Linked DNA regions of Homo sapiens: all the other regions are linked to region 5. The links come from fine-mapping of genetic effects on gene expression. A gene starts in region 5. Each other region holds a variant in brackets. All regions are shown on one strand. Distances are between the middles of the regions. Region 1 has its middle 22 kb from the start of TUT4. Region 2 overlaps ZFYVE9 (zinc finger FYVE-type containing 9). Region 3 overlaps NRDC (nardilysin convertase). Region 4 overlaps ZFYVE9 (zinc finger FYVE-type containing 9). Region 5 holds the start of CC2D1B (coiled-coil and C2 domain containing 1B).

What was found. PIP is the estimated chance that this variant, and not a neighbour inherited with it, causes the effect.
Region 1: its variant is the best candidate, but not a certain one, in a credible set for the expression of CC2D1B in testis (GTEx, PIP 0.82).
Region 2: its variant is the best candidate, but not a certain one, in a credible set for the expression of CC2D1B in whole blood (INTERVAL, PIP 0.87).
Region 3: its variant is the best candidate, but not a certain one, in a credible set for the expression of CC2D1B in whole blood (TOPMed, PIP 0.54).
Region 4: its variant is the best candidate, but not a certain one, in a credible set for the expression of CC2D1B in T cells (TOPMed, PIP 0.64).

Annotation. Positions count from the first base shown.
Region 1 is chr1:52,572,251-52,577,427 of GRCh38, forward strand. It overlaps the pseudogene EEF1GP7. Among named protein-coding and RNA genes, the nearest start is that of TUT4, 22 kb to the left of the region's middle. The variant C/T (reference allele first, on the strand shown) is at 2,775.
Region 2 is chr1:52,332,622-52,337,798 of GRCh38, forward strand. ZFYVE9 (zinc finger FYVE-type containing 9) reads left to right here. Exons shown (of 19, transcript NM_004799.4): 14 at 147-297; 15 at 2,067-2,147; 16 at 5,151-5,177. Among named protein-coding and RNA genes, the nearest start is that of CC2D1B, 31 kb to the right of the region's middle. The variant C/G (reference allele first, on the strand shown) is at 2,768.
Region 3 is chr1:51,828,689-51,833,688 of GRCh38, forward strand. The region is part of intron 4 of NRDC (nardilysin convertase); the gene reads right to left. Among named protein-coding and RNA genes, the nearest start is that of MIR761, 5.2 kb to the right of the region's middle. The variant CA/C (reference allele first, on the strand shown) is at 2,513.
Region 4 is chr1:52,275,932-52,281,108 of GRCh38, forward strand. It overlaps ZFYVE9 (zinc finger FYVE-type containing 9), which reads left to right. Exons shown (of 19, transcript NM_004799.4): 9 at 2,561-2,683. Among named protein-coding and RNA genes, the nearest start is that of CC2D1B, 88 kb to the right of the region's middle. The variant A/G (reference allele first, on the strand shown) is at 2,419.
Region 5 is chr1:52,363,101-52,368,100 of GRCh38, forward strand. It overlaps CC2D1B (coiled-coil and C2 domain containing 1B), which reads right to left and starts at 3,105. Exons shown (of 25, transcript NM_001330585.2): 1 at 2,969-3,105; 2 at 1,452-1,534. The coding sequence starts at 1,520. RefSeq lists silencers at 2,705-2,814, 2,855-3,484.

The sequences.
Region 1 (5,177 bases), 210 kb after region 5:
TGCTTTATTTGTGTGTTTTGTCCAATTTTTTCAAGAAGCCAAGAATCTGGGCACCTTCCACTGGTAACAGAATTGCTGGGATTACAGGCATGAGCCACTGTGCCCAGCCAGTTTTTATTCTTAAATATTCATAATTATGTGCTAAGGGATGTATGTGCCTGTTTAGCAATTCCCTTCTCAAACTTTGGGATCTCATCGTATGCTGCTACAGTCATTTATTGTTCCACAGTGATTTTCACTTGGTACTTGCTTTTTATTACAGCAACCTCTGAAAACTCAGCTTCAAAAAGACATGACATCATCCAGAGACATGTTTAAACCTTGAACTCAAGCTTGTGTGGTATCAGACATATATTGAATCTCCCTCTCCCCTCTCCCCTCTCCCTTCTCCCCTCTCCCTTCTCCCTCTCTCTTTAACATGGAGTCTCGCTGTCTCACCCAGGCTGGAGTGCAGTGGCGCGATTACAGCTCACTACAACCTCTACCTTCTAGGTTCAAACCATTCTCATGCCTTGGCCTCCCAAGTAGCTGGAGTTACAGGTGTGCGCCAACATGCCCAACTGATTTTTGTAGAGACGGGATTTTGCCTTGTTGTCTAGGCTGGTCTGGAACTCCTAGCCTCAAGTGATGCACCCTCCTGGGTCTCCCAAAGTGCTGGGATTACAGGCATGAGGCACTGCGCCCAGCTTGTATTTCTCCTAAAATGTCAAAATATCCTCTAGAGCCCTCAGTTAGCTAGGGCACCCCAGGGCTCCTCAAAAGACAATTTGGGAAACACACGTATAAAAGGGAAATCCCCTAACAAACCCTCAGGATATTAACACAGAACATCACAGAATCACAAATAGTGGTCATGATACTAACTTTCTCACCTGCATTAACCAGCCCCAGTTCCAGGCTGTCTTGGGGGAAGTAAAATGATAGGAGAAAATGGCCCTATTTGATGCTAAAATATTTGCAGAGAGCAGGCCTAAAAAGGACACCCCACAGGAGAAAAGTTCACGGGAAGAAAAGCAGAAGCCCTAGGCTGAACAGAAAGGAGAAAAAGGCGGCTGACCCTGCTCCTGAGGAGATGGATGAATGTGAGCAGGCACTGGCTGCTGAGCATCGGATAGCCAAGACCCCTTTGCTCACTTGCCCGAGTACCTTTGTGATGGATGAATTTAAGCACAAGTACTCCTATAAGGACACAATGTGGTGCTGCCGTATTTTCGGGAGCACTCTGATAAGGATGGTTGGTCTGAGTATTGCTTTCCTGAGAAGCTCACCCAGACCTTCTGGAGTTGCAATCTCATCGCTGGAATGTTCCAGCAGTTGAACAAACTGAGAAAGAATGCCTTTGCCAGTGCCATCCTCTTTGGAAGCAACAATATCAGCTCCATTTCTGGAGCCTGGGTCTTCACAGGCCTTGACACTGAGTCCAGATTGGCAGGTGGTCTTCGAGTCATACACGTGGCAGAAACTGGATCCTGGCAGCAAGGAGACCCAGACACTGGTTTGTGAGTACTGTTCCTGGAAAAGGGCCTTCCAGCATGTGGGCTAACTTCAGTCAGGGCAAGATCTTCAAGTAAACAGCTCTTGCCATTGCCTTGCTTCCTGTACCTGTTCTTTAAGGAGATGGGGATCATTAAAAGAAACTGAATATTGAAAAAAAAAAAGTTTAATTTAAGGTCAGTTTTTTCCATTTATGACGACTGAGAAATACCAAGTGCCTACTTAACAAGATTGCCATCCAACATTATTAAAATTTAAAATAAAAATATTGGGCCGGGAGTGGTGGCTCACACCTGTAATCCCAGCACTTTGGAAGGCCAAGGAGGAAGGATTGCTTGAGGCCAGGAGTTCAACACAAGCCTAGGCAGCAAAACAAGATTCTGTCTCTACAAAAAAATATTAAAAATTAGCTGGGCATGGTGATGCATGCCTATAGTCGTAGCTACTCGGGAGGATGAGATAGGAGGCTCGCTTGAGCCCAGGAGTTTGAGGCTGCAGTGAGCTATGACTGCGCCACTGCACTCCAGCCTGGGAAATAGCGTAAGACCCTCACTCTAAAAAATAAAGGAATAAATAAAAGTATTGTACTTTTAGCTACACTAAAAACTTCACAAGGTCATTGTCAGGCCCCATCCTTTCCTCAAAGAACACAGACCTTAGAGTCACATAGATTTGGATTCAAATTTAGACCCACTGCTTTCCACGATCTTGAGCAAGTCTCTCAATCTTTCAGATCACCTTCTCATAAAAAATGTAGACCATAATTCTCACCTCTTAAGTTCTTATGGAAAGTGAAAGAACATATAAAAAGTGCCTAGCACAGACCCTGGCACATAACAGGTGCTCAAGACCCCCTTGCCATTTCCTAAACATGCCTTAGACTTGCATCCTACTAAACCTTTGCAACATGGTGCTTCCTTGGCCTGATAAACCATACTGCTTTTGTCTGCTGCCAAACTCTGTTCATTCTGCGTCACCCAACTTAAATACATTCTTCTCTCTGAAGCTTCCCTTGGCTTCTTTGGAGAGAATGAGTCACTCTGTCTTGTTCAGTTCTGCAGGATTTACCACTATCGCCTCACTTGATCACATTGTGTTGTAATTGCTTATTTATGAATCTTCTCCCTCACCAGATTTTATGGTCCTCCTCCATGGCTGAAGCCACATATTTTCACAGCACCTAGCATGGTACTTGGCCCTCAATAAATGTTTCAATGAATGGAGGAATAATAATAGCAAACAGTCAGTGCTTAATTCTAGGCATTATTCCAAGTGCTTTA[C/T]AAATATTATTAACTTGTTTAATCTTCATGACAATTCTATGAATTATTATCATTTCTCTCTTACAGATGAGGAAAATGGCACATAGAAAAGTTATGTAATTTGTCTAAGGTCACTCAGCTATTAACTGTCAAAGCCAGGATTCAAACCCAAGCAGTTGGTGTGAGTCCAGACTTTTAGCCAACACACTACAATGCCTCCCAGTGAACAAAGGAATGAACAATCACAAACAAATTTGCTTTTCCCAAATGTCTTTCTTTCTCAGGTTTTGGAATGGCTCATCCATTCATTTAACAAACACTTTACATAGAGTTTTCTATGTGTATAATTATCACACTAAACACCAATCTCTGTTTTCCTCACCCCGGCCACACCCCACTTCACACAATCTTCACTGCTTGCCCCTAACCTCGACTGCTCTGTGAATTTCTTTGTTTTGTTTTGCTGGAGACAGGGTCTCACCCTGTCACTCAGGTTGGAGAGTAGTGGCATGATCATAGTTCACTGTAGCCTGGAACTCCTGGGCTCAAATGAGCCTCCTGCCTCAGCCTCCAGCCTCCAGCCTGAGTACGTAGGACTTCAGGTGCCCATCATCACACCTGGCTAATTTTTAATATGTTTTTGGAGAGATAAAATCTAGCTATGTTGCCCAGGCTGGTCTCAAACTCCTGGACTCAAGCAATCCTCCCACTTCAGCCTCCCAAAGTGTTGGGATTATAGGCATGAGCCACCGTGCCCAGTCCTCTTTCAGTTTCTGGAATGTGTTGTGCTCTCTCCCACCTCTGACCCATGACTGCCACATTGACTAACTAACTTGTACTTTTTCTTCAATTCTCAGCTTAAATTGCTTCCTTCTGAAAGACTTCCATTTGCCCCCTAAAGAAAGTTAGGTACACCTGCTCTGGGCTTCCCATGGCACTTGACACTTTCCTCATCATAACATTTTTCATACATACTCTTCTTGCCCATTTGCTTGTCAACCTTCTGCACTAGACTATAAGCTCTACAAGAGCAAGAACTGAGTCTATCCAGGTCGTCACTGAATCTGCAGCACCTAGCCTGATGTCTGGCATATAGTAGGTACCTGACACATATTTATCGAATGACAGATTGAAGCATGAGCAAGACAAAATCTCTATGCTTAAGTCTAGTGGGAGGCCAGGCACTATTCATTCCTATAATCCCAGTGCTTTGGGAGGCCCAGGCAAGAGGATCACTTGAGGCCAAAGGTTCAAGACCAGCCTGGGCAACATAGCAAGACCCCATCTCTACAAAAATAAATAAATTAGCTGGCATGGTGGTGTGTGGTTGTAGTCTTAGCTATTCAGGGGGCTGAGGTGGGAGGATCTCTTGAGCCCATGAGTAATTACAGTAAGCTATGATTGTGCCCCTGCACCCCAGTCTGGGCAATAGAGCAAGACCCTTTTTCTTAAAAAATAAAAAAATACAGAACTCTATTGGGGGAAATAAAAGCCTAGAGGGGATACAGGAAAATAAACACTTGTAGTATATTGTGATAAGTGCTATAATAGAGATCCCAGGGTCCTTCAGGGACATAGAGGGAAAGATTTCTAACTCTACTTGAGGTAAAGTGGAAGGGGGAAAGCTCACCAGAGTCTTAAAGGATAAGTGAGAGTTGAAAAGAAAGAAGTAGTATTAGCCAGGCGCAGTGGCTTATGCCTATAATCCCAACACTTTGGGAGGCCGAGGTGGACGGATCACTGAAGTCAGGAGTTCGAGACCAGCCTGGCCAACGTGGTAAAATCCCATCTCTATGAAAAATACAAAAATTAGCCGGGCGTGGTGGCACATGCCTGTAGTCCCAGCTACTCAGGAGGCTGAGGCACGAGAATTGCTTGAAGCTGGGAGGCAGAGGTTGTAGTGAGCCGAGATCACACCACTACACTCCAACCTGGACCACAGAGTGAGACTCCATCTCAAAAAAAAAAAAAAAAAGAAAAAGAAAGATGTAGTATAGAGGCAAAAAGCAAGAGCAAGAACTGTAATAGAAATTGCTTTTTAGCCTAAATGGCTAAATCATTTTTCTGTGTGTCTAAAAGTAACATTAATCTAAACTTAGTCTTACAATTGGCTTGTTTAGTAAGAATTTGGAAGCAATGTGAAATAACTTAAAAGGCAATTGATGGAATAATGTTATTTCTTAATTATCACTCCTATAAATTCCCATGAAAATCAGTTCTTTATTATCATATTTATCATGCTGCACTACCATTGTCAAAATGTGTCTATCCTACCTGATTGTGAGCTATTTAAGGCCTTGGATTAAAGAGCATTAAGATCTGATTCGATTCTATGTATTCCTCATACTGAGAACAAAGCCAGGCCCAGAGGATCTGTGAATACTCCAGCATGACCACAAAGTCCTAAATGAACTGACCTCCAAC
Region 2 (5,177 bases), 30 kb before region 5:
TTACTTTGTTTCATTATTTGGTGGCCCTTTTTGTCACTTTAATACGTAATATTCTGTTAGTTTTGTTTTTGAGAAGATGGAGTTGCACCATGTCAGACAGAAAAATGCCCATTCTTGTCAGAATAAGGTTATCTCTTTGATTGCAGATGATGAAAGCCATGAACAAGTCCAATGAGCATGTCCTGGCAGGAGGTGCCTGCTTCAATGAAAAGGCAGACTCTCATCTTGTGTGTGTACAGAATGATGATGGAAACTATCAGACCCAGGCTATCAGTATTCACAATCAGCCCAGAAAAGGTGAGCATTTGAGCTGGTTGAGATTATGATAATGGAAAATTATACTGGACTTGGACAGTTAGATACCTCAGTCCCGTAACACTCACTTTCTAGATAGGTGACCACAAACAAATTAATTAACCTTTCCAACCATATTCTTCAGGATTATGTTGACTCCCCAAGTGGCCAGACTCAGAGTTGCAAATGGGATATGTGTTATTGAGGGAACAATTTTGAAAATATGCCCTTAGGAGGGAGGGATAGCATTAGGAGAAATACCTAATGTAAATGACGAGTTGATGGGTGCAGCAAAACTAACATGGCATGTGTATACGTATGTAACAAACCTGCATGTTGTGCACATGTACCCTAGAACTTAAAGTATAATAATTAAAAAAAAAAAAAAAAATATGCCCTTAGGATATTGACAAGGGCCAGCTCTGGCATTTGAAGGCACGACTAGGCCCCATAATGAGAGTATGTTTAGGTAAATTTGAAGCTTGTTGGATGACCATTCCCACAGAATGCTAATTAACTTGACAGGATTCTGAAGGAGGTTTCAGTGCTATTCAGAATGTGGTCTCCACACCCCAGATTCACTAATCAAAATTTGCATTTTAACGAGATCTCTGTGTGATTCAAGTGCACATTCGACTTTGAGAAGCATTGCTCAAGAGGCGTTACCCAAAGTGTTTTCTCAGGCACCATGGTGTTAAAAACTTCACATGAAAAAATAAGTCTTGTTTAATAGATTTAATCTAAGAAACCCCGTGTTAGGCCAGCCGCGGTGGCTCATGCCTGTAATCCCAGCACTTTGGGAGGCCAAGGCGAGAGCATCATTTGAGCTAAGGCGTTCAAGACAAGCCTGGGCAACATAGCAAGACCCTGTCTCTTAAAAAAAAAAAAAAAAAAGCAGGGCATGGTGGCTCACGCCTGTAATCCCAACACTTTGGGAGGCCGAGGTGGGTGGATCACCTAAGGTCAGGAGTTCAAGACCAGCCTGACCAACGTGGTGAAACTTCATCTTTACTAAAAATACAAAAAAGTTAGCGGGGCATGCTGGCACATGCCTGTAGTCCCAGCTACTCGGGAGGCTGAGGCAGGAGAATGGCGTGAACCCAGGAGGTGGAGCTTGCAGTGAGCAGAGATAGCACCGCTGCACGTCAGCCTGGGTGACAGAGCGAGACTCCGTCTCAAAAAAAAAAAAAAAAACTTAGCAGATAAAATAGTTGGCAACCATATTTCTATCTTCAGAATATATTTGATCTAAAAAAATCTGAAAATCAATGGATTAGATTGGGGGTGGCAAACTTTTTTTGTGAAGGGCCAAATGATAAATATTTTAGACTTTGCAAGCTGTGGTTTTTGTCAACAACTATTCGGCTCTAGTATTATAGTGCAAAAACTGCCATAGACAATAAGTAAATGAATGGACATGGCTGTGTTTCAATAAAATTTTATTTACAAAAGCAGGCTGGAGGCCAGGCAGGCTATAGCTTGCCAACCCCCTGACCTCAACCATTAAGATTCCTTTTCTTGTAAGATACTTGGATTCTTAATTAGAGGAAGAACAAAACAAAATGGGGGAGTGTATCTTAAAACCTAGTTCCCAAAGCTGTTGTAAGCATCAGAATTGTTGGTTACATGTTTATTGTGGAATATAGATTTGATTTTTTAAAATTTTCTGTGTGATGATGGTCGGAATTCTCAACTTCTGAATATTTTGTTATTATTTTCAATCCCTCCAGCTTAGGGTCTGTCTTACTAAACTATTTCTATTGCTGTTTTAGTGACTGGTGCCAGTTTCTTTGTGTTCAGTGGCGCTCTGAAATCCTCTTCTGGATACCTTGCCAAGTCCAGTATTGTGGAAGGTAAAGAATGAATTGTTCAGTCCTCATAATAAGGACTGAACTTATGTACATAAAGGGAATCCTTTACACTTCTGCTGTAGATGTCTGACTCCTACTGTTTTTTCAGTAGCATCTCTTCAGCAAATTAAAACTGCCATGAGAGTGCTTAGTTCTCTGAAGAAAGGAGTAAGTGGTAGGGATACCATGTGACAATGACATTAAAACTAGGAGATGGCCTTTCAGAGCTCTGGGATAAGGTACCTGAGGGCATGTAGTCTGAGTTCAAATATATCATTGGGTGGAAATATTAATATCTAAATGTGTAGATGAAAGTCCTGTCCACAAGAATGCTGTGGTCATCATTTGGAGTACAAAATGGCATGTGCTTGCTGCTAGTGTGCTATAATTAGACATGACACATATGTTGACAAAAGTTAATTAAACTAAAAGCTAATTGGCACACCGTTTATTTTCTTTGTTGGTTATTCATTGTGTTTTGATTTTGCTACTCTTATTTCATAACAGATGGCTTAAAACAACCATTTTATCATGCTTGCTTATCCTCTAGATCAGTAATCTTGACAGGGCAATGCAGGGATGGCTTAACACTGCTTCATGATGTTTGGAGTCTTAGTTGGGAT[C/G]ACTTGAAGTTATCTGATGACTGGGAGCTAGAATTATATGAAGGTTTGTTCACACACACGTCTGAGGCCTGGCCTGGGATGATTTAAAGACTAGGAGTGGTGACTGGGGTACTTACGTGGGGACTCCTTAACATGGCTTGATACCATTGGGATAGCTGGACTTTTTACATGGTGGTTCAGGACTCCAAACATGAATGTTCTAGCAAGAAGGTGGAAGCTGCATTGCCTTTTGTGACCCACCCTTTAAAGTTATATTGTGTCATTTCCACCATACTCTGGTGTTGGAAAAAGGGAGGGAAATTAGACTTCACTTCTACATGGGAGAATGGGAAGATAGCATTGTAGAAAAATGAGATGGGAGATATGACCATTTATGGAAAATGTAGTCTGCCTCACATGATGACAGGTTTTCATTTTTACAGTAGCTCACTCCAAAGCTCTGTGTAAAAACAGTCCTTTCTTAGGCCGGGTGCGGTGGCTCACGCCTGTAATCTCAGCACTTTGGGAGGCCGAGGGGGGCAGATCACTTGAGGTCAGGAGTTGGAGACCAGCCTGGCCGACATGGTGAAACCCCATCTCAACTAAAAATACAAAAAACAGCCAAGCGTGGTGGCGCATGCCTGTAATCCCAGCTACTTGGGAGGCTGAGGCAGGAGAATCACTTGAACCTGGGAAGCAGAGGTTGCAGTGAGCTGAGATTGTGCCATTGTACTCCAGCCTGGGCGACAGAGTGAGACTCTATCTTTAAAAAAAAAAAAGGTCCTTTCTTAGGGCTGGATTCCAGTGTGTTGATTGAAATACGTAGATAATCTTACATATATTTATAGATACTAGCTTTGGTCTTCTTTTGGTAAATTTAATAAAACAGTGAGTGAAACACAGAGTGCACTAATATTTTACAACTAAAATTTACAACTCTTGACTACAAAACAGAAACATGCCGTTAACAAATTGTTATGAAATCTAAGAGGTTTTTTTTGTTTTTTTTTTTTTTTTTTTAAGATGGAGGCTTGTAGCCCAGGCTGGAGTACAGTGGCACAATCTTGGCTCACTGCAACTTCTACCTCAAGTGATTCTCCTGCCTCAGTCTCCTGAGTAGCTGAAATTACAGTTGTGCGCCAACACGCCCAGCTAATTTTTTTGTATTTTTAGTAGAGATGGGGTTCCACCATGTTGGTCAGGCTGGTCTTGAACTCCTGACCTCAAATGATCCACCAGGCTCAGCCTCCCGAAGTGCTGGGATTACAGGTGTGAACCACCACACCCAGCTTAATTAATCTAGGAGTTAAACAGTCATTTGGTCTAAAGCAACTAGTTAAAGCCTATATGATGAAGTGTTGACTATAGTTGAAATTGTGACTTCACAAGGTGATTTTAAAACACCCCTTAAATGTTGTTAAATGATAAAATGAGCTGGGCATGGTGGCATACACCTATAGTACCAGCTACTTGGGAGGCTGAGGTGGGAGGACCCTGTGAGGCCAGGAGCTTGAGGCTGCAGTGCATTATGATCGTCCCTGTGAATAGTCACTGCGCTCCAACCTGGGCAGTCATCTCTTAAAAAAAAAAAAAAAAAAAAAAGATAAATTGACCTGACACAGATCCTTACCAATTCAAAGCAGTGTGTTTAAAAATTATGTGTTTATGTGTCTGGCTTGGGAATTTCTTGGGTCTTGCATTTCACTTGTGTGTTTCAGTGGAGCGATTGGCTGACTATGAAATTGTTATTGAGACTCTTTAGAAATTATTTCATTGTGTGTCAGTGAAGCAGAGTAATTGCTCAGCATGTGACAACTTTTACTGTCAATTTCAGTGTTTGCCTTCAACTCAGGTAGGTAGCAGCTGAAAAAGTTACCATCTGTTGGTTATCTGGTAGCCCATATGAAACTCTGTGGTAGGTTTGCCTTATTTGCTAGTCAATAAATGGATTTATCTCCAAGCCCACTACTATAATTTATTCAGTGATTTATTTAGCAAACATTTATTGGGCATTCACTGTATGCCAGGCAGTCATAGTAAGGTGAGAGAGATGGAGATGCAAACAAATGAATATGACCAGAGGATGATAAATGCAGGAGTGAAAACAGGAACAAAATATTCAGTGTGTCCAGAAGAAGAATGTGACTGTGTTTAAGTTTTCCCCTTAAGTAGTCTCAGGAGAAATTCTTAGTTGTGTCTGAAGTGAAATCAACAAGCATGTGTTTTAATCTTGGCATTGCTTCTCACAACACTTTCAGTAAGAGGTTCAGCTCAAAGAGCAAAACCTCTGTATCAGTCAGCTTTGGAAAGCAGAGCTAAGGTTTACATTTAACTCGGAGGAATTTGCTAGATGCCAGGTGCTGTGTTTCATTTGCCTCTCCTTTGGCTTTGTACTGATTCTTAGATGGTGTTATGGTCCAGATTACTGCAG
Region 3 (5,000 bases), 530 kb before region 5:
AAAATTAATTTCCTAAAATGTTTAGTAAACTTTTTTTTTTTTTTTTTGGATATAGTGTCTCACTCTATCACTCAGGCTAGAATGCAGTGGCACAATCACTGCTCACTGCGGCCTCAAACTGCCGGGTTCAAGCAATCCTCCTGCCTCAACCTCCGAAGTAGCTGAGACTAGAGGTGTGCACTACCATTTTTTTTTAAATCTTTAAATTTTTTATAGAGACAGGGTCTCCCTATATTGCTCAGGCTTCTTTAAAAAACTTTTAACTTTTGCTTGCAATAAGGTAACTTTTAACTTAACTACCTGCTAGATATATTGGGGCATTTTTTTTCTTTTCAGTACTTGGTATGATTAATGATGGGTTGGATAATTTCTGTTGACTTAAATAATGAAACTAATTTTATTTAATTCTGTCACCCAGACTGGAGTGTGTAGTGGCACATCACGGCTCACTGGAGCCTTGAACTCCCCAGGCTCAGGTGATCCTCCCACCTCAGCATCCCAAGTAGCTGAGGCTACAGGCATGTACCATCATGCCCTGCTAATTTTTTTCCCTCACCATGTTACCCAGACTGGTCTCCAGCTGCTGGGCTCAAGTGATCCACCTGCCTTGGCCTTCCAAAGTGCTGGGATTATAGGCATGAGTCACCATGCCCAGCCTACTAACATTCTTAAAAGATATTTTTATTTAGTGTACAATTTATGATTCTAGTTATTAGTTGGTAGTTATTTTCCTTCAGAGCACGAAGTTGAGTAGTCATCTGTAAGTGTAACTCATCTTCCTTTGAAGAAAATTTTCTCTTTATCTGGCAAAAATTTTCCATATTTCTTCTAATGTATCCTTTTGGAAGTTATTAGACTTTAACCTCTGATTTGATGTCTTACAACAGGTTCTGAAAATTTTCCAGTGATCAACCCTTCAACTGTTGTCTCTACTTCAATTTTCTCTCTCCTCCTTCTACAACTACAAGTAAAATACATGGGATGTTTTCATTCTATCCTCTATGCTTCATATTCTTTGTATTTTTAATTTTGTGCTATATGCTATATTTGGGTTATATATGTTCTTTATGCTATACTTGGGTTAATTCCTTCTGTCTTATCTTCTGGCTTACTAATTCTATCTTCAACTCTATTTACTCTTAAACTTGTCCATGACATTTTCAATTTTTTTTATCATAGTTCAGTTCAAGATGTATCTTTTCATTTTACAAATTTCCTAGGTCATATTTGACAGTTTCTTATTCCTTGCAAGTATATTCAAATTTGTCTTTTATTTCTTTTTTTTTTTTTTTTTGTGACAGAGTCTCGCTCTGTCACCCAGGCTAGAGTGCAGTGGCACTATCTCGGCTCACTGCAAGCTCTGCCTCCCACGTTCAAGCGATTCTCCTGCCTCAGCCTCCCAAGTAGCTGGGGCTACAGGCACCCGCCACCGGACCCGGCTAATTTTTGTATTTTTAGTAGATATGGGGTTTCACCATATTAGCCAGGCTGGTTTCAAACTCCTGACCTCGTGATCCACCCGCCTCGGCCTCCCAAAGTGCTGAGATTACAGGCATGAGCCACTGCGTCTGGCCTTTATTTCTTAAAAAATAGAAAGTATAATTATTTTAGAAATTGTGTGTAACTATGCCAGTACTTGAGATGTCTCAGAATCTGTTTGTGTTATCTGTTCTCAATCATGTTGTATTATTTTCCTGAGTACCTGCTTATTTTTGACTGAATGTTGGTTATTTTACTTGAAAAAATATTTGTAACAATTTAGGGCCTAGAAGGAAGGCATCTTCCTTTTGAGATGCCTTATGTTTGCTTCTCCCAGGCTCCTGGGAACACTACCAGTTCTGCCCATGAAGCTACAATCAAGACTTGGGGTTCCCCAGAATACTCAGGCACTTGGAATCTAGGCTATAACTACTCAGGACGCCTCATCCTTTTTCACAACCTGAAAGTGAAGATTTTGTATTCCCGCTTATAATGGGGAGGGTCTCCTGTTAGAAGTGGACATCCTAAGCTTTGATATTTGTCACTCTTACCATGAAATACTGATAAAATAAAGTTCAAATTTACTGAAAATAGAAGACGCCACCATGGTAAAGACGGCTTCCATGCTCACTTACTTAACTGGAGTAAAAATTTAGTCATTTCCTCAGCTGTTTATTTAAAAGATACTTATAAACAATGTGGCCTGTGTGAGGGAATCAGATTTTGCTAACCTATTAAAAACAGGTACTTAATCCATGTTATATAAGAGCATATTACACACGTATAAAGGCTTTTCCTTATACATTGTAGAAGTATAATATTATAGCATTTATTATAGTATTTGCACCCTATAATGCTCTACTTATGGCATAAATTTATGATTTGATATTCTCATTAATTTATCCTATTAATGCAGTGGCTTTCTTATTGGGTGGCTTTCTTTTTAAATAAAAATAAATGTGTAAGGTGATATTCTTAGATGCTGAAGCAGTCCTTGTACAAAACATATTTAGAACAACTCTTTAAAAGGAAA[CA/C]AAACAAATTTCTTAACTACATTTTATACCAAATTTCATCATCTCTGAGATGGCCAGAATGTATTCATATCATACATACCATTTGCCTATCCTTTTTCCCAATAAAATCAGTTATTTTTCCTTCTTTGTATATGGACAAAGCTAAATATAAAGTTGTAAAAATTCAACTTGTCTTCTGCTTAAGATTTCTTCACACATACAAAGACCTGTTTGGATTCTGTAAAACTTAAGAGCTGAGAACTCTGTAACAAGAGTAAAGATGCAGTTTTCTTCAAAGTTGTATGGTTAAAGTCTCCTCTGAAGGTATTGCTGATCCTGTCTAAATTTATAGGAAAGATCATCTCAGGCATCATTTGCATTGCCTTCATTGATTTATCTTTCTTTTTTTTTTTTTTGAGACAGGGTCTCGGTCCATCACCCAGGCTGGAGTACAGTGGTGCGATCTCAGCTCACTGCAACCTCCGTCTCCCAGGTTCAAGCAATTCTCGTGCCTCAGCCTCCCAAGCAGCTGGGATTACAGGCCTGCGCCACCACACCCAGCTAATTTTTGTATTTTTAGTAGAGATGGGGTTTCACCATGTTGGCCAGGCTGGTCTCGAATTCCTGGGCTCAAGTGATCCACACACCTTGGCCTCCCAAAGTGCTGGAATTATAGGCATGAGGCTGCAGTCAGCCGAGATCACATCACTGCACTCCAGCCTGGGCAACAGAGTGAGACTGTCTCCAAAAAAAAAATAAATAAATAGTGGCATATGCTTCCAATTTATAGGAATATGTCCAAAGGATTTTTCCAGATCAAATTAATCTCTTAAGAAAAGAGATAATTTCTTTTTATTTTATCTTTTTTATTTTATTTTGTTTTTGAGACAGAGTCCCACTCTGTCACTCAGGCTGGAGTGCTATGGCATGATCTCAGCTCACTGCAACCTCCGCCTCCTAGGTTCAAGCAATTCTCCTGTCTCAGCCTCCCAAGTAGCTGAAATTACACGCACATGCTACCAAGCCCAGCTAATTTTTGTGTTTTTAGTAGAGACAGGGTTTCACCGTGTTGGCCAGGCTGGTCTCGAACTCCTGGCCTCAAGTTATCCGCCCACCTCGGCCCCCCAAAGTGTTGGGATTACAGGTGTGAGCCACCACACCAGGCCAATTTTTAAAAAAAATATTAGATCTCTATCATGTTTAAAAAAAATTTTTTTTGGTCATTTATCTTTTGATTTTATGGTAATTTTTGCTATAAAGGAACTGCATTAATTCATTTAACAAATCTGAGTATCTACCAAATTATTGATTTGCAGATGTATCAACAAAAAATAGATAAAAATTCCTGCTCTGAAGGAGCTTACATTATACTAGACAAACGTGAGGTTTCTTTTTTCTTTTACATTTCAATCTTGCATATATCTAGAATTAGGTATAACTTTTTTCTACTTTTCTACTTTTTTCCGGGGTAGACTTTGGTCTGCAACCCTGTAATCTCAAACTTCTACTATTGTACTGACAAACTTTCTGGAAAACAATTTTGCAATGAATTTCAAAAGCTTAAAGAAAAAAAAAGTCTTAAAAATATATTTGCAAATATACTCAGCAATTTCACTGCTTAGAACTTAATAGAAATAATTAAGGATATTCACAGAGATCAGGATAATCATCACAGTATTAGAAAACTGGAAACAACTCAACTGTCCAATCATATGTAACTGATTAAACACCTTATGGTACTTCTATACAATGTAAATAACATACAATCACTAAAAATCATGTTTTATAAATTATGTAAGTTAAAATGATATATCTTGCTTAAAATTAACAATTATAAAAGGGTATGAACAATATGATCGGTATACTTTAAAAAATATAGATGGGTCTATACCAAAACATTAATGGTGGTTATCTCTAGATTATAAAGTTGGAGGCAATCTTATCCCTTTTTTGCTTCTCTGTTTCTCCATATTTTCTACTAAATTCTGTTTTTTAAGTGGCTGGGCAAAGTGGCTCACACCTATAATCCCAGCACTTTGAGAGGCTGAGGCAGGAGGATCACTTGAGGCCAGGAGTTTGAAACCAGCCTGGGCAATACAGAGAGACTCCCAATTCTACAAAAAAATTTAAAAATTAGCTGGGAGCGGTGGCACATTCAGCCTGGGAGGCTGAGGTTGCACTGAGCCATGCATTCATGCAATTGATGGCCAATTGCACCACAGCACTCCAGCCTAGGCACCATGGCAAGACCATATCTCTTAAAAAAAAAAAAAAAAAGTCATAATGAGTCAACAGAGAATACATAATTAATAAAATTAATAAAACCCAAAAGGTGTTGACTTTTATTTTAATCTTTAATACAAAGACTATATATAATAGAACAAGAGTCAAAGTGTATTTAACAGTTTAACAGCTTTTTTCTCCAAATAAAGTTTTGTTTGAGACAGGGTCTCAAACAAACTCTGTCACCCAGGCTGGAGTGCAGTGGTGTGACTGTAGCTCACTACA
Region 4 (5,177 bases), 87 kb before region 5:
GGAGTCTCACTCTGTCGCCAGGCTGGAGTGCAGTGGTACAGCCTCAGCTCACCACAACCTCCGCCTCCCGGGTTCAAGCAGTTCTCCTGCCTCAGTCTCCTGAGTAGCTGGGACTACAGGTGCATGCCACCATGCCCGGCTAATTGTTGTATTTTTAGTAGAGACAGGGTTTCACTATGTTGACCAGGCTGGTCTTGAACTCTTGACCTGGTGATTTGCCCACCTCGGCCTCCCAAAGTGCTGGGATTACAGGCGTGAGCTACCATGCCCGGTCTGACAATGTTTCTTATAACCTTATCTCAGCCTGTCTTTCTAGCCATTTATTATCAACTTTATTTCCAGCTATTCCCCAGCACCTTACATGTATACTGCAGATTATTTGCTATTTTTTGAATATTTACTTTTCATTCTTCTGTACTTTTTCTTGTGCTGTGGAATAATGGGAAAGAATGGACTTCAGAATTGAACAAACCTGACTTTTAATGCCAGTACCGTTCCATTCTAGCTGTGTGATCCAGTTGGCAAGTCATTCATCCTCTCTGAATTTGTTTCCTAGTCTGTTTTATTTAAAACAATTATATAACTACACCTACTTAAAAGTCATTGTGGTTATTAAGTTAGATATCATACCTGTAAGTACATACCAAGAAAGTATCTGGCATAAAGTAGGCATGTAATTAATATTTTCCATTTCTTCCTTTCTTCTGCCTAGAATACCCCTCTCTACTGTAGACTTCCTGAAGAACTCCTCAACCTTTTAAAATCCAGCTTAATGGTTAATTCTTCTCTGAATCCTTACCTGGGCTGCTTAGAAAATAGTGATTTGCTTCATTATCTCTGTTCTAATAGTGGTTCCTATAGACTGTTGGCTACATTAACACTTTTTCTCATTGCAATTTAGATATTATATTTTCAGATCGTATTCTTTCACTTAGACTATGAAATTCTTCATCTTATTTTATACTTGCATTTACTGCTCCTTGCATGGTGCTAGGCCTGTAGTAGGCTCTCAGCAAATGCTGTCTATATTGTACTCTCAAATGCAGCTATGTCCCAGATAGTTCAGCAGTGAACTTTCACATACAGTTAAGCATTCTTTTGACTGCATAATGCTTTTGCTTCTTTACCAGGACCCTGTAAAAATATCTACTGTTAGTAAAATTGCTGCTTAGGGTTCAGATTTTTATTTTAATAAATCTTAGATTAATAAGGAACTAAATTGGCCTACTCTGTTGTTAAAAAGAGTCAGATTGTTGGATTCTATTGTTAGTAAAATACCTATTGTTAGTAAAATTATCTATTGTAAAAATATCTATTGTTAGTAAAATTGCTGCTTAGGGTTCAGATTTTTATTTTAATAAATCTTAGATTAACAGGGAACTAAATTGGCCTACTCTGTTGTTAAAAAGAGTCAGATTGTTGGATTCCATTTTCATAAAAAGTTATGTCCGTTAAATCTAATTGTCAAAACTTCTCCTACCAAGAAAGAACAGTGAATTATCTATATTACTTAAACTATATTACAGTCTCTTCATCAAAATTTTGTAATTTTTTATTCCAGTGGGATGACTTTACTTAAAAAATTTTAAACTCAGGATTTCTCTTTCCAATAAATATTTTTAATAATGGAGTAGATATTTCCCATTGTATCCAAAAAATCCATTTTAAAATTTCCATTAGAAAATGGGAAATGATGTTACTTTGTTCTACCTGACTGTCCCTCAAATATGCATTTTATATAAGACCAACCAAGCAACATTCAACTTTTAGGTTTTCAGTTCCTTTCCCATATCTCTAGGTTCTACAGTGATTATTACGCATGATTTGACTTCAAGCTGAAAGGACCACTGTCATTCAAAATGAGATGCTGAAGCACATACTGTGCTTCCAGAGATTAAATGAGAAGAGTTACATTCAGTATTAACTTGTTCATGTTCAGAATCTTATGTGTGATTTACTGATGATTTTAGTGACATATGTACTAAACTCTTAAATTATACTTAAAGGAATTGTTTTATGAAGCCAGTCACACACAATACTTTTATTTTCTGGGTTCATTTTTTAAAGTTTAAGTTTTTAATTGTCAAAAATGTCAAACAGTACAAAAGGTCATAGAGTAAAAGGTAGGGCTCTCTTCTACCCCAACTATTTGATATCCTTTCCAGAGGTAACTAGTATATTATCACTTTCTTGTATATCATGAGTTATTTTAAATGCTGGTCTTGAACATTTATTATGTGAAATTCTTGTTATAATAGTTGGAAAATTTTTATTAAATAGAAAGGTAGTCTTTAGATTGTGGCACAAACCACTGTGGGGAGAGGTCTATACACAGGATAACCACATTATCATCTAAGGTGGACTGGGTCACTTTTGAGAGTAAAAGAGGGCACTATTAATTTGATACTGAGCCAGCAG[A/G]TACAAACCATGCTCTGTATGCACCTATTGATAAATCAAATGCATGTCTCTTTTCTGTGAATAATTAGCTCATTTCTCCATCTGATCTCTTTCTTGATTTGTTCCTTTAACCAATCTATTACATTGTTTTCTCCCCTTTCAGACTATGCTGTGGAAGAGAAACCATCACAGATTTCAGTAATGCAGCAGTTGGAGGATGGTGGCCCTGACCCACTTGTATTTGTTTTAAATGCAAATTTGTTGTCAATGGTTAAAATTGTAAATTGTAAGTTATAAATTTTTAAAAATTAAAATCAGATGTTTTACTGACTCATAGTACATAAAACTTTCAGATTTATTACACACAAGTATTTTTATATAGAGCCACATCTTTTTTTTTTTCTTTTTTTTTTTTTGAGACAGAATCTCGCTGTGTCACCCAGGCTGGAGTGCAGTGGCACCATCTCGGCTCACTGCAAGCTCCACCTCCCGGGTTCACGCCATTCTCCTGCCTCAGCCTCCTGCCTGAGCAGCTGGGACAACAGGTGCCCGCCACCACGCCCGGCTAATTTTTCGTATTTGTTTTTTTTTTAGTAGAGACAGGGTTTCACTGTGTTAGCCAGGATGGTCTTGATCTCCTGACCTGGTGATCCGCCCGCCTCAGCCTCCCTAAGTGCTGGGATTACAGGCATGAGCCACCGCGCCTGGCCTAGCCACATCTTACTGAACACTGAGTTCTGAAAAAGTTGGTTTTTATAAAATGATATATCCCAGAGGACAGCTGTGGAACTAACCGAAACTCTCACATTTAGTTACAGGGGTGAGGTAGGTGAATTCTCCATGGATGAAAGCCAAACAAATCTTGAACTTATCTGAGTTAAGTTCTTCTTGAGATGAGTATGTTAAATCACAACTTACCACCAGAATAACTGGTGGTAGATAAATTATACAGGCTACTCAAATAATTTACATGCTGTGTTTTAATCCCAGAAACCTCAATTATGGTGCAAAACTTTATTTAGGAAAAGTGTTAACTAACACACAGTAAAGCTTCAATACATCATAAATTGAGATTCAGAAGAAACTTCTCAATTGTTGGTGCTAGCATCATGGGCATCAGGATGAGAAAGACGACAGTATTTGAGAATTTTTTGAGACAGAGTCTCACTCTGTCACCCAGGCTGGATTGCAGTGGCATGATCTCTGTTCATTGCAACCTCTGCCTCCTGAGCTCAAGCAGTTCTCCCACGTCAGCCTCCCAAGTAGCTGAGACTACAGGTGCACACCACCATACCTGGCTAATTTTTTTTGTATTTTTTTGTAGAGACAGGAGTCTCACCATGTTGCCCAGGTTGTTCTTGAACTCCTGAACTCGAGTGATCTGCCTGCCTTGGTCTCCCAAAGTGCTGGGATTACAGATGTGAGCCACTGCGCCAGCTAGTAATTTTGAGAATTATTTAGAGAATGCATTTATTCTGAATGAGTGTTAATAGGCAATTTTAAAGGACAGAACCTCTGGGGAACCATCCTGCAGTTCTCCATGTGTACTTAAGTTGATTTTGGAAACCAGAAACATATACTACTTCCTTAGAAGTTCTACATTGATGAAATGTGGGTTTCTGGCTTACTTGCTAATCACACTCTTGTATGTTTGGCCAGTTATTAATGCTTGCTACCTTCTAGGATCAGATTTAAAATGAATTTGCTTGAAATTTCAATTTGCCATATCTAGTTTATAAATTATGCTTAGAAATTAGCTAACCTAAGACCAGGCACCATGGTGCACACCTGTAGTCCCAGTGCTTTGGGAGGCCAAGGCAGATGAATCACTTGAGCCCAGGAGTTCGAGACTAGCCTGGGCAACATGGTGAAACCTCATCCCTACCAAAAAAAAAAAAAAAAAAAATTGGGCATGGTGACATGCTCCTGTAGTCCCAGCTACTCTCGAGGCTGAGGTGGGAGGAGTTCTTGAGCCCAGGAGACGGAGGTTGCAGTGAGCCGAGATCATGACACTGCACTCCAGCCTGAATGACAGAGTGAGACCCTGTTTAAAAAAAAAAAAAAAATTAGCTAACCTAGATTCTTGAAGTATATACCATCATGAGGAATGTCCTATTTAGGTACATAAAGCAAGGATTCCCAAAGTGAAATAAAGATGTCTTTGTTTTTTTGATTAACATTTGTTTTGATTTACATGGTGGTATTCATAATTTTATTTGAGTCCTTTTTCAGTTCCTTTGGGGATCCCATTGTGTTGGGGTATGAAGAGTAAAAGTGTCAAGGATTAAACATTGTTTTTGACTACATATGGTTTCTGCTGTTCATACTCTCCATATAGCCTTAAAGTGAAGGAGTGGAACTAAGTAGTTCAGAAAAGCCATCCTTTTCACTAATTTTTACAGCATGAAGCCAAGTAAAGTCATGTTGCTGATTATCTAGAATTTTTTCCTGGAAAGGACTATAGTTAAAATAGCTGGAATCTCTTGGTCATATATTAAATTTAATAAATATACATAAAAATATATTTCCTTTAGGTCACAACCTGAAGATAAAGCTATATTATTGGCTTTTGTTGTAATTACTTCTAGCCTTACATTGGTAATTACTTCCTTCGATGATGTGATTTTTTAAAATATAAAGGTGGAGGACTATGTTCTTCAATCACGTTTGGCTTACAATACATAGTTTGGTTTTATTTTAGTATTAATAGAATGTTGCTTCTTTTAATAGGAGTTAAAAGTTTTAAGTGCGTTTTATTATTATTTCTTTTACTTCCATTT
Region 5 (5,000 bases):
GTCCTATTTTTTGGCCAGGCGCGGTGGCTCACGCCTGTAATCCCAGCACTTTGGGAGGCCGAGGCGGGTGGATCACGAGGTCAGGAGATGGAGACCATCCTGGCTAACACGGTGAAACCCCGTCTCTACTAAAAAATGCAAAAAATTAGCCGGGCGCGGTGGCGGGCGCCTGTAGTCCCAGCTACTCGGGAGGCTGAGGCAGGAGAATGGCGTGAACCCGGGAGATGGAGCTTGCAGTGAGCCAAGATGGCGCCACTGCACTCCAGCCTGGGCGACACAGCGAGACTCCGTCTCAAAAAAAAAAAAAAAAAAGAAGGTCCTATTTTTTTAAACTCTGGTAAAACACATACAACATGAAATTTACCATCTTAACCACTGTTAAGGGTGAGTTCAATGGCATAAGGACATTCACAATATCCTGCTACCATCGCCATCATCCATCCACAGAACTGTTTTCATGTTGTGAAACAAACTTTCTACCCATTAAACATTAACCCCCCTTCCTCCCCTCCTTCCAGCCTCTGGTAAGCACCATTCTTCTGTTTCCATGAATATGACTACTCTAGGTAGAGGTACATCCTTTTTTTTTTTTTTTTCTGAGACAGAGTCTGGCTCTGTCGCCCAGGCTAGAGTGCAGTGGCACTATCTTGGCTCACTGCAACCTCTGCCTCCCGGGTCTAAGCGATTCTCCTGCCTCAGCCTCCCAAGAAGCTGGGAATACAGGCACATGCCACCACGCCCAGCTAATTTTTGTATTTTTAGTAGAGATGGGGTTTCACTATGTTGGCCAGGCTGGTCTCAAACTCCTGACCTCAGGTGATCCACCCACCTCGGCCTCCCAAAGTGCTGGGATTACAGGCGTGATCCACGGCACCCAGCTTACATTCTGTTTTTATCCCAATGTTCAGATGAAACTGAGACAGTCTTGTGAGACAATCAGAATTTAAAACAAGCTCTTTGCGACTTGAGTCTATGCCCTTTACCCCACCTCCTTTCTTACCTGCCTTTTTAAAGACAGTAAAAATGGACTAAGAAGTCTCAAGATGTAGGCCCAGAAGAAATAAAGGAAGAAAATTGGAGAGGAGACCCCCCTGTTCTTCCACTTGGGGCACAGCCATCTGTCCCTAGGCAGTGAAGTCCTCCCACTGACTACAGCCCTCATGCCCTGGCATCCCTGGCTAACAAGCAAAGTTGTGACCCTATCTAAGGAACCTTTGAGAGCACTGAGGTCCCATCAGAACATCCTAAACTTTGGTGATTCCTGAACCCTCTCCCCACTTGTATGTGGAAGAGACTAGTAGGAGGGTGTCTAAGGGCTCTGCCACCTCCAGGAGGCACTGCTCCAAGTCTCTGAACTAATGGGGGAACTACATGTGATCCAGTTTGCCTAAGTTGTCTAGGGACCCCCATCCCCAAACCGACCCAGTAGCCTAGAAGGCTAAGTTCCATACCTGCTTGGCAGCGGCCACCCCTTGGCCTCTGGCCTGAGGGCCCTTCCGAGGTCTTGGCCCTGGCATCATGGCAGCCTAGATACCTATGGAAGAGTTACAGAGATTCAGGCTGGAGTAGCCCATAAGCCACGCCCCCAACAGTGCTACCCGTGGTAAGGTGTGGATAGTAAACTCCCAAAGAAGGCAATGCTGAACACCAAAGTATGGGTTACCTTTAATTAAAGCACTGAAGCAGCACAGGCCATGGGAGGGATGGGGATCACCTGTTAATGGGTTTACTGAGGAATGTTCTGAACGGACTCAAATTTAAAAAGCACATTCAGGGAAGTACTCTAGGTTCAGGGTGGGTGGAAGGCTGGGTAGAATTCAGAAAGGCTCTAAAGCTGTGCTTATGGAAGCCACAGCTGGCTATTTAATTTTAAATTTCAATGAATTAAAATGAAATAAAGCTAAAAATCCAGTCCATCAGCCACAACAGACACATTCCAAGTGCTTAACAGCCATATGTGGTGAGGGGCTATGACCAGACAGCACACACACAGAACATTTTCATCATCCAAGGACATGTCATCAAAGTTCCATCTCACAGCTGAGCTCTGGAGAAAGCTGGCTCAGCATTCTGATTCCCATAAAGATCTCACAGTTATTCACAGGACCTCCTGTGTCAGACCTTGCGCTGGGCACTGGGAGCGCAGAAATGAACCTAAGACGGTCTCAGCCTTCAATGACCATTTACAGGGTGGAGGTGGACTACACGGGGTTGCCCCAGGGGCCATGGGTGCCCTGAGGTGACCCCTTCTTCAGCCCTGGGAGAAAAGGCTCCTCCTTCGAGGCGGTGACGCCTGAGCTGAGTCACGCAAAGAAGTTGGGGGAAAGAGGGAAATAGGATTCCAAGACGAGGGAACACTTGACGGCTCTGAAGTGGGGAGCAGCTTGGCCTGTACAATGGAACCTGAGGCCTGGTATGACTGGGGCATAAGCGGTGAGGCCTGAATGCACAAGCCGAGGTGGAAATGTGAGCAAGCGGCAGAATATGAAAACCTCTAAGCCGAAAAGCGTTTGGGCATTATTCTGAGGGCGCTGGGAAAGAAGTGGCGGGATCGTATCGGTGTTTCAGAAACCCCATTCTGGCACCAAAGGGGAGGTGCACAGAAGGTAGGGGGAAAAGGCAGGAAGCCGGCGCATCTCGCCACAGCGCTGGCGGGGAGACCAGCTGACGGGCGTGGAGGCGGCGGGGAGCGGGCGGAGGAGCTGGCGGGCGCTCCGGGGGACTCTGAGTGTCAGATTTCGGGAGTGACTCCGGCTCAGGTGAAAGCGAGGCCAGACACTCCAAGGCTGCGGCCCCGATGACACAGCCAGGCCTCACGGAAGGTGGGCAACGGAGTCCGTAGGGGGAGGCGACACGGGACCCCCACTCCCGCGCTGCGGGACGCGCCGCCCTGCCCCGCCCGCGCCGCCTCCATCTACCCCCGCGGTCCCCAGAACTCCCCACGCCGAGGGGCGGGGACGCGGCATACCTCGCGGTGAATCCGAGCCAAACCCCGGCCTTGTCTCACCCGGCACCGCCCTGGGCTCCCGCGGGCCCTGGGCCGCAGCGGTAGCGACAGGAAGCGCCAGCAGGGGAGGTGGCTCGCGCGCAACACGTGACCCCACTGGCCGGCGGCCGGCAGTGCGCATGTGCACGGCTACGCGGGCGGGGGGCTCCAACAGGTGACACCGGGGCGGGGTTCGCAGCGCGCAGGCGCGTTCGGGTAGGTAGCGCAGGACAGGAACTCTGGGCGGTTCCGCCGGGGCGTCCACCGGCCGGCTCCAATGAGGTCGCTGCGCCCAGCCCTCGCCCACTTGCAGCCTCTCCACCGAACCTCCTCCCTCACTCAGCCCGAGGCGCTGGGCGCTCGCTCGCTCGCTGGACCTACCCCGCCTCCAGCCCTCGCCCCGCCCCACCGAGCAAGAGGGCGGGGCCTACCCAAGCTCCGCCCTGGAAGAGAGACAGGGGCGGGGCTCACCTGCTTGTCCATGTCCTTTAAGCCTGGGGAAATGGAAATGGGGCCCACCATATGTTTCTTAATAATTCAGCACCTGAAAGTATCCTTTTCCGGTCCGTTGAAAACTTCAGACAGGCAGAGCTCGCTGCACATCTTAAATACTTTACAGAGTCTAACACTAAGTTCTCACTCGCCTACCCTGCTGTGCAATCAAATGGCATGGAGGATATTAAGGAGAGAAACGGAGTATACCCGTTTTCTGCCAAGCTTGTGTCAGTCACTTTTCATAATGGAGCTTATACCAGTTCTCAATCCTGCAAGATGGACATCATCTCTAGAAGAAACGGAGGCTCAGAGAGAATTATTTGCCCAGGGAAATACAAAACCAACCTCTTTAGCATCAGTAAATATGCTCTAGTCTAGTTTTCTAAGGAAAGCACGTTTCTCCCTGCGGCTTGCAGAGTCCAGTTAACAAGAGATTGAGCTCAGGAGTCCGAGACCAGCCTGGGCAACATGGCGAAACCCTGTCTCTACAAAAAATTACAAATATTAGCCGGGTGTGGTGGTGCGTGCCTGTAGTCCTACCTACTGAGAGGCCGAGGCAGGAGAATCGCTGTGGCCCCGGAGGTCCAAGCTGCAATGAGCTGTCAACTGCACTCCAACCCGGGTGACAAGGTGAGACCCTGTCTCAAACTAAAACAAACAAAAAAACCGAGAGCGGAGTAATGGGGAAGTGGCCAGATTCCCATCTAAAGTAACCACTTCGATTTTGGGGGGAAAGAGAACGGCTTAAAAGGAAAATTTGATATGGGAAGCATGCAAGAATTGTACAGAGTACAACGTCTGTGTGTCTTGTTCTGGTGGCTATCTTGGGTCCCAGCCTACCTGGAGCGTGGGCTGGTCTCATCTCCACAATGGCCCCGCTGTTGACTAGCCACCTTGAAGTAATCTTTGGAATTTTGCAGCTGTGTCTCCAGGCTTGGTTTGTCTGTCTCAAGATTAGCCCTTGGAACTTCTCAGAAGGCAGATAATTAAATACTAGCATACAGTAAGATAAATGTGAAGGGAGTATATACAGTGAGAAAGGGAGGGATATGGGGTCTATTTTACAGCTAAGGGAAAAGGCTTTTGCAGTTTGCTTCAAGGTTGTATCTTGAAACCCAAGAGAAAGGAAAAAAAGTTTTAAAATGTATTTTAAAGTTAAACTGCTGGATTAGTTTCTTCTGTCTAAAACATTGCCATCTCCTCTCCTGCCTATGCCTTGAACTTTTAAATTATGTTTTCTAGTTAGCGATCTCCCAGTTTACTTGGACAAAGGGCTTTTCCATCTCCTGATTGCTTACTTTTTTTCTTTTTTTTTTTTTTGAGACAGGATCTCATTCTGTCACCCAGGCTAGAGTGCAGTGGTGCGATCTCCACTCACTGCAACCTGCACCTCCCAGGCTCAAGCAATCCTCTCACCTCAGCCTCTTGAGTAGCTGGGACCACAGGCACGTGCCACCATGCCCAGCATTTTTTTTTTTTTTTTTGTAGAAACATGTTTTTGCTATGTGCCCAGGCTGAT